Linked DNA regions of Homo sapiens: region 1 is reported to be linked to region 2. The links are microRNA targets in miRTarBase. Many come from high-throughput screens and were not tested one by one. Region 2 holds a microRNA gene; the other region holds the end of a gene's coding sequence.
Evidence for each region. The annotated mature microRNA hsa-miR-187-3p reads UCGUGUCUUGUGUUGCAGCCGG and lies in region 2 at 3,091-3,112, shown strand. An mRNA with a match to its seed (bases 2 to 7 or 8) in the 3' UTR can be bound and repressed. Matches are read on the target gene's strand: a 7mer-m8 pairs with bases 2 to 8, a 7mer-A1 pairs with bases 2 to 7 and ends in A, and an 8mer does both.

Region 1 (4,391 bases), not on the chromosome of region 2:
AACCTTCTGGGTGGAAGGGCTATTCCTCAATCAGGCACAAACAACGAAGATCACTGTATCTATTTATGTCCTAAAACAATATGGTGTCAACAAGAAGTTATGGTTCTGTGGTGGGCTCTCGTCCCTGAATCAATTGAGTCTTATTATTTTTGTTTCTACAGCTCCTAGCATAGTACACTGATACTATGATAAGAGTTCAGGAAATGTCAGCTAAATGACTGAAAGACATGGCTACCTACTCTCTCGTGAAGATATACTATCTTGGGAAGATACATTCTCTTGAGAAAAATACCACATTTGAAGCTTTCATGTTCTGGAATAGTGATTCTTCCTTCATCTGCAAACACAGGCTCTACAAATGTGGGTTTGGCAGGCAGAATAGAGAATTTTAAAATAATCAGCACATCCCTTTTAGTTTTCAGTCTGGCTTTGCGCTTTATCTTTCTCTTCTGCTCTGGGTTAGAAAGTGAGCCTTTACTTAGTGGGATGGCTAGACAGTTACCAGAGACAGGCCAAAGGATTGGATCCGGGAGGTACCGGCCCGACCCCTAGCTCTGGCTTACGCAACCCCACAGATGTACATTTCGCTGCATCTGAGCAGAGAGAGAAGAGCACCGAGGGCCCCAGTGGGCTGCCCCGGCACCCTCGGCGGCAACGCGGAGACCAACTGTCCGAAACAAACAAGACCAGGAGGTTTGAGGGTAGCCAACGAGGAGTGCGAACAGAGCCCCCTTGAGAGGAGGCTGGGAAAAGGAACCTGTCTGGGATAGCCCCCAGCACAGGGCTACACAGAAAAATCCGAAGACAAGCTGGGGGTCTCCAAGCAAGGAGGAGAGGGGCAGGGTCCGGGTCTCCATGGAAACAGGGAAGGGGGGCTGGATACCCATCCCCATGGAAACGGAGAAGGGGTGGGGTCCCTATGGTGACCAAACTGAGGTCTCTATTGGGAAATGCTTCAGGAGGGAGCCTAAGTCCCGCGCCTCCCGGTAAGTCCCAAGCCCAGGCCGAGTCTAGTTTCGCCTTTTACCTCCGCGGCTCCCGGCAACGGCGGCAGCAGCAGCTTCTCCCCTCCCCAGCGGCACCATGATTGCCCCCACCTTCCCCTAACGTCACTTCCGCTTCCTCTTTCCGGAGGAAGGTGGGGACAGAGGATCCGCCCCTCCCTGGCGCCTCTGGTTGGCTCAGGTTGTCAGGGGGCTGAGCTGCAGCCTCCAATTGGCGAGCGGGGCACCGAGGGGAAGGCGCCCAGGAGGTGGGTTCATCCGCGTGGGGAAGCGCCCGGGGTGGCCACGCGGGGCCCGGAGGGTGTCGCCCTCGCGGCACCGGAGTCAAGGAGAAGGGAACGAATCCCCAAGGAAGAATCCGAAATGTCCTCAGCCAGGTTTGCGCTGACCGCCCTCGCCCTGGCAGCCACAGCCGCAGCGGGAAGGACCACAGTTGGCAGTCAGAACCCTGGCTCCAACCCGCCAGGGGAGCCTGGACGGCCGCGACGTTCCCGGGTTTCTCCTGCCGGGACCCCGGCCTTCCCTTCAGCACCCATCAAAGTTAACACAGGCAGGAGGCCCAGAAAGGAAGACAAGACCCCAAAGGCAGAACTAAGAGTATTCTAAGCCCAGCTGGAGAGGACGCCGCCGCCTCTTCCCCTTCTCACGCGCTTGCCTAGGACCCCCAGCTCCCTTCTCACGCGCTTGCCCAGGCTGGCGGTCCCAACTTTCTTCCCCTGCAAGAGGACGCGGCTACGGCGGGACTCATGCCCGGGCCAGTTAGCGCCACCTACCGGCCACTCCCTTCCTTTCACCGTTCACATTGTCCTGCTGGCCCGCGTCTTAAACCCATTTCACAGTGCCCAGAAGTAGTGGGCATTCGTACCCAGGAAGCGATTCTGCCTTCGTTATGCCCCTGTCCTTTCCAAATGCCTGGAGGATCTAGCTGTTAGATCCTCCCAGCTGCCACTGCCTGTTTTAACCATAAGCTGCTTCTCTCGAATATTCAGAGTGGGACAACTCCAAAGACCAGACCAGGGGTCAAGGGGTTCAGGTCAGTGCCATAACCATTTCTTGCTGGAAGTATGTGAATAGTGACTGGTACCCACCAGACTGCCAGGAATATGTCTCTTTGGCCCCAAGGCTTGAGCCACAAAATCCAGCTGCAGCGAACTGCCATCTCTTAAGACATAAAAACATACACAACCGCCACTGTTAAAAATACATTTATCATTAAAATATATTACACATGGAGACAGGATGCATCATATACAGTTTGGAAGACTTGCTGGCCCAGAAAATCCCACTTGTTTCACCGAACACTCATTTTTTCAGTGATTTTACATTTTATTTTTAGAGACGGGGTCTCCCTCTCTCACCCGGGCTGGCGTACAGTGATGTGGTCATAGGTCACTGCAGCCTCAAACTCCTGTGCTCAAGTGAGCCACCCACGTCAGCCTCCCAAGTAACTGGGACCACAGGCATGCATCACCACACCCAGCTAATTTTTTAAAAATGTTTTTGTAGAGAGGGGGTCTCCCTGTGTTGCCCAGCCTGGTCCCAAACTCCTGGTCTCAAGTGATGCTCCCACCTCAGTCTCCCAAAGTGCCGAGATTACAGGCGTGAGCCACTGTGCCTGGTCATTTTAATTTTTTAAATGCCTGTATTGCCCTCAGAGGCTGAGCAACCAGCCTCAGAGTTATTGAGCCATTATCTGGGCAGGAACGGGGGTCGAGTTTGCATATGCATATACACATCCTCAGACAGAGCACTGAAAGCATCTGAGGTGGCTGTAGCCTATTTTATCCAGCAGCTTCTGCCTGCATTCTTGCCATCCAACTCATTGGCCTTTCAGGACTTTCCATCAAATATCTGATCATGGGGATCTCAGCCCAGACTGACTATGCCCTGGAGGTAGGGTGAGTGAGTACAAGTACAGTTATTTAAAAACATTTTAGGCCAGGCGTGGTGGTTCATGCCTGTAATCCCAGCACTTTGGGAGGCCAAGGCAGGTGGATCACCTGAGGCCAGGCATTCGAGACCAGCCTGGCCAACATGGTGAAACCGTGTCTATACTAAAAACACACAAAAAAATTAGCCAGGCATGGTGGCGGACGCCTATAATCCCAGCTACTCGAGAGGCTGAGGCAGGAGAATTGCTTGAACCAAGGAGGCAGAGGTTGCAGTGAGCCAAGACCACGCCAACGCACTCCAGCCTGGGCAACAAGAGTGAAACTCCATCTCAAAAAAGAAAAAAAAAAAAAAAAGGCCGGGCGTGGTGGCTCACATCTGTAATCCTAGCACTTGGGGAGGCCGAGGCAGGCAGATTACCTGAGTTCAGGAGTTTTAGAACAGCCTGGGCAACACGGTGAAACCCCGTCTCTACTAAAATGCAAAAAATTAGCTGGGCGTGGCAGTGTGTGCCTGCAGTCCCAGCTACTCGGGAGGCTGAGGCAGGATAATTGCTTGCACCCAGGAGGCAGAGGTTGCAGTGAGCCGAGATCGTGCCACCGCACTCCACCCTGCGCGACAGAGCAAAACTCCGTCTCAAAATAAAAAAAAATAAAAAATAAAAAAATCTGTGTTAAATAACTAAAGTTGAAAATTGAATGTCAGTTTTATTATGGTGGATTTTCTCCCGTGTCTTCACGACTCACAGCGCTGAGTGTGCTAACCAATGGTGGGCTTAATTGGGGTACTAGGCTCAGGAAATAGCTGCCATTCTTGCTACCAAGTGGCCTCACATAATTATCTTAAGGCATCTCTTGAGCTGAAACAGGTGGGGCTGGTAATTGGCAGCCTCAAGTAAAATAGGAGGAGAGAGAGGCTCAGAGTGGGTTGCAGAGGAACTGGTGAATAAATTCTTGAGCCTTCTTCTTCTCTGTCATATCAAGCTTTTGGTGACCAGCTGGGTTTCGAAGCAATAAGCTGCCAAATATGCTAGCTGCAAGAAAAAACACAGAAAAGAAATGATTCAGCAAAAGAAGGTACTAAAGACACACATCACTTAACGACAGGGATATGTTCTGAGAAATGTGTCATTAGGTGATTTCATCATTGTGCAAACATCATAGCGTGTACTTAAACTTTCACAAACCTGTACTTACACAATTCTAGATGGTATAGTCTATTGCTCCTAAGCTCCTGTACAGCATGTTACTATACTGAATACTACAGGCAATTGTAACACAGTGCTAAGTATTTGTGCATCCAAATATATCTAAACATAGGAAAGGCACATCAAAAATACGGTATTATGAGCTGGGTGTGGTGGCTCACACCTATAATCCCAGCACTTTGGGAAGCCAAAGCGGGCAGATCACTAGAGGCCAGGAGTTCAAGACCAGCTAGGCCAACATGGTAAAACCCCATCTCTACTAAAAATAACAAAAATTAGCCTGTCCCTGC
Region 2 (4,391 bases):
GGGACAGGAGGCTTGTTTTGTCTTCATCTTCCTGCAACACCACCTACTCTCCACTATTTGGGCCTTGGACCTGCACCTCCGTTGTTCCAGCTGAGCTGCCCGTATGGGCCTGGCTTCTGACTTGGGAAAGAAGGCCTGGCCTGCAACACCTGGGAGGATGTGCTGTGAGGCAGGTGCAGGGGGCTCCCACAGGCTGAGGCTCTGTTACCGCCTGGCCTGCATTTTGGTTCCTGGGGAATCTGAGAATCAGCCAGCTGTCTAAGCATCATGCAAGTAAGCAAGTCATGCAGGCAGCCACTCTGGGTCAGCTTCTGGGATTTACTCATCATGACTTGCTCCCTGCTGCGAGGCCAGAGCCAGAGCTCAGGTCTCCCTGTCCTTGCATCAGCACGGGCTTTCTCCCCACTGTCCTAGCTGCCTCTGTGTTCTTTAGTTTCTGAAAATACAGTTCCAGGGTGCCTGCTGCACATGCTTGTAGTCAGAAGTTGCAGATGAGTACTGGGATACCTTCACTTTCTTCAGACAGAACCCAATAATGCAACTCCACTTCTGCTGCCTTTCAAAGGCAAGGTAAGCATGTGCAGAATTCAGTTTCTTCAGAGTTTTGTCAGCAGGAGCCAGCCCCCCAAACTTGGGCACTTGGATAGCATCAGGTGTCTGGACTTGTGAAGCAGGGGGCTGGGTTCTGGGGACTGGGTAGCTTCTCCCAATAGCCAGTAGCGGGCCACTGCCTGGTGGCTCTGTGACAGGCTCTCATTTTTCAGAGGCCGTGTGTTGGGCCCTGAGACAATGATGTGTTAAAAAGTGTACGAGTCCACAGCAAAAGAAACTACCAACAGAGTGAACAGGCAACCTACAGAATGGGAGAAAATTTTTGCAATCTACTCATCTGACAAAGGGCTAATATCCAGAATCTACAAAGAACTCAAACAAATTTACACGAAAAAAACAAACAACCCCATCACAAAGTGGGCAAAGGACATGAACAGACACTTCTCAAAATTAGACATTTATGCAGCCAAAAGACACATGAAAAAATGCTCATCATCACTGGCCATCAGAGAAATGCAAATCAAAACCACAGTGAGATACCATCTCACACCAGTTAGAATGGGGATCATTAAAAAGTCAGGAAACAACAGGTGCTGGAGAGGATGTGGAGAAATAGGAACACTTTGACACTGTTGGTGGGACTGTAAACTAGTTCAACCATTGTGGAAGTCAGTGTGGCGATTCCTCAGGGATCTAGAACTAGAAATACCGTTTGACCCAGCCATCCCATTACTGGGTATATACCCAAAGGATTATAAATCATGCTGCTATAAAGACACATGCACACGTATGTTTATTGCAGCACTATTCACAATAGCAAAGACTTGGAACCAACCCAAATGTCCAACAATGATAGACTGGATTAAGAAAATGTGGCATGTATACACCATGGAATACTATGCAGCCATAAAAAAGGATGAGTTCATCTCCTTTGTAGGGACATGGATGAAGCTGGAAACCATCATTCTCAGCAAACTATCACAAGGACGAAAAACCAAACACCACATGTTCTCACTCATAGGTGGGAATTGAACAATGAGAACACTTGGACACAGGAAGGGGAACATCACACACTGGGGCCTGTTGTGGGATGGGGGGAGGAGGGGAGGGATAGCTTTAGGAGATATACCTAATGTAAATGACGAGTTAATGGGTGCAGCACACCAACATGGCGCATGTATACATATGTAACAAACCTGCACATTGTGCACATGTACCCTAAAACTTAAAGTATAATAAAAAAAACCACACACAAAAAAAGTGTATGAGTCCTCTGTTGCTTCTCAGGGCCTGATGCAGTCTTAGATCATGAGTGCCCAGCCTGAGAAAGGAGTTTGGAGGGGAAAATAACTTATTTGGAGAACATGTGCCTGTATAGGTCTGCACAGACTCAGATATAGTGGGGAGTACCCTGGTCAGCTGGGAAGAGCCCCTCAGTCTTTTAGACAATTTAGGAAGAGAAGGGATTTCCCTCCCTCTAAATTGTTCAATTTTAAGTTCCTGTACAAAATGTGGGCATGATATTGTTATCCCTCTTCCTTCTACTTTTATCTTCTTTTGTTGGTAGAAAACGATGTGACACCTAATTTCTACACTTCTGTTTAATGTCCCATCTGGGCTCAAAGTCTACAGCCTTCCCAAAAGATTCGTTGAACAAAACTGATGGGTCCACTTTACTGAAGCTAGAAATAAGGAGAGCAACACCGCCGCTTACTCCTCATTCCCACAGCCCAGGAATTCTGTGGAGCTCAGCCAAGGATTGCGCGCCTCGGGGAGGAATCTCAACAAGTCACCTTTGGAGGGACTGAAGTTGGGACGCTTTTTGGGTTCTGGGCCTACCGCGTTTTATTTTGTAAAAAAAACCAGAAATGACTCATCCAAAATAATCTGCAAAAAAATGATATGTAGGAGTTTTTGAATAAAAAGAAACCATAAATAAGTAATAAATCCTTCAGAGGCCTATAGGAAATGGATAGCAGTAATGTTGTGTTTACTGCCTTACTCCCAAAGTGCAGATATTTATTATAACTCAGGGCAATTCATTGTACTAGCTTGGCGTTTACAAAATTCTCATCATAGTATTAGAGTAGGAACCCATTTCCTAGGAAGTATTGTTATGATAAACTGTAATTAGTGGCTTGTAAACAGCCATAATTCATTGTTTAAAGGAAAAGGTATGTGGACAGTGAAGTATTTGCGTGCAAAGCCCCTCACCTCTCTGAGCATTTCCATCAGGCTCGCTGCTCACCTGGAGCACAGGTCATCTATGCTGCCCCGGGCAGGACTCCTCGCCCATCACAGCCAAGACTCCTCAGGTCAAGGCCTCTGCTGAGCCCCAGTCCCAGGACCCTCTACTGATGCTGACCTCTGTTCTTTTACAGCTTCCTCATCGGGATGCACAGCAAGTCGGATTCCCCAAGCAGAAGCTGGGCAGCCCACCTGGAAGAGGAGGCCAGGCAGGTGCTGCAGGTCGGGCTCACCATGACACAGTGTGAGACCTCGGGCTACAACACAGGACCCGGGCGCTGCTCTGACCCCTCGTGTCTTGTGTTGCAGCCGGAGGGACGCAGGTCCGCAGCAGAGCCTGCTCCGCTTGTCCTGAGGGACTCGACACAGGGGACTGCACAGAGACCATGGGAAAGTCCAGGCTCTGGTGGGCAGGTGGGTGGGGTGTTGGGAGAGAGGCCGACCCGGACCACCCCAGGTGTCACCCATTCAGCCCCCTTTTTTGTCCTAGTTTCGTCTCTCCGTACACAGCTTGGCTCACCTCTGGCCCAGTGCAGGTAGCTGGTGCTGGCTGCAGGGTGACACAGCCTACTTTGGGTCTGGGCTTTGAGGATGCCTTCTGCTCCTCACCTCCGGTCCCCAGACCAGGTGACTGAGACTCCACAATGGGGGTAGGAGGGTAGCAAGGAAGGCAGTTTCTCCCCAAACATCTCTCCCATTGATGAGAAGCCCACCACTGGACCGCCTCCAGATCGGAAAAGCATTGCATTTTTAGGAGTTGTCTATTAAAATGTGAATATTTTCTGCAAGGTGGGAGATTAAACCACTGTAGGCATTAGCTGGTTTCATTGAAGACATTACTGCCAACATGACAGAGACTCCAGAAGGAAATGAAATCAGATCATGAACTCCCAATAGGGAAGAAGCCCCAGAAGAGGACCCTAAAACTGGAGGTGAGAGGTGTGAAAAGCAAGGTTCCTTCACCTGTGCAGGCTGTCACAGCACTGGGGTGGGAGCTTGGATGCAGGGTCCGCTGAGTGACTCTGCCTTCACAGCTGAGGACTATGGCTCGAATTTCCCCAAAGAGCCTGCTCTTGGGGCAGCACCCTTCAATCAGATTCAGATGAGCCCCTGGCCCCCAGGACTACCTGCATGTTACTTTCCACACCAACCCTGTGTCCTAGATAGAAAGGATCCATTTATTCCCTTGCTTTTCACCAGCCTCATGGTGTTCACAGTGCCTCCTCTTTTACAAGAAATGAGCTAGTTTTAAAATGTAATTGGTGCAGTGTTTTTCCTTCTCTTGAATGATCTGGAGGGAACTAGCATAAAATGACATTTTATGGTCATTTTAGGCTGCACTTAAGTGAAAACTGAGGGGAAAGCCGGGAAGTTGAGCGGATCGAGATGCAGGGAAGGCTCTGGGTCATGTGTCACCATCATGGCCTGAACAACCCAGCAGGATCCACTACAGAACAGATCAGGTTAAGGCAGACATGCTGTCTTCTGTGTGGGAAACCTGGAAACTGTCTTTTTTTTTCTTATTATACTTTAAGGTTCAGGGTACATGTGCACAATGTGCAGGTTTGTTACATATGTATACATGCGCCATG

Region 1: miRTarBase lists INPP5B as a target of hsa-miR-187-3p. Seed matches in the 3' UTR shown: 7mer-m8 at 3,623-3,629 and 7mer-m8 at 3,049-3,055.

What each region holds. Positions count from the first base shown.
Region 1 is chr1:37,858,504-37,862,894 of GRCh38, forward strand. It overlaps INPP5B (inositol polyphosphate-5-phosphatase B), which reads right to left. Exons shown (of 24, transcript NM_005540.3): 24 at 2,194-3,927. The coding sequence ends at 3,812. MTF1 (metal regulatory transcription factor 1) reads right to left here and starts at 1,089. Exons shown (of 11, transcript NM_005955.3): 1 at 1,028-1,089. RefSeq lists a silencer at 1,026-1,355.
Region 2 is chr18:35,903,556-35,907,946 of GRCh38, reverse strand. MIR187 (microRNA 187) reads left to right here and starts at 3,021; the gene lies at 3,021-3,129.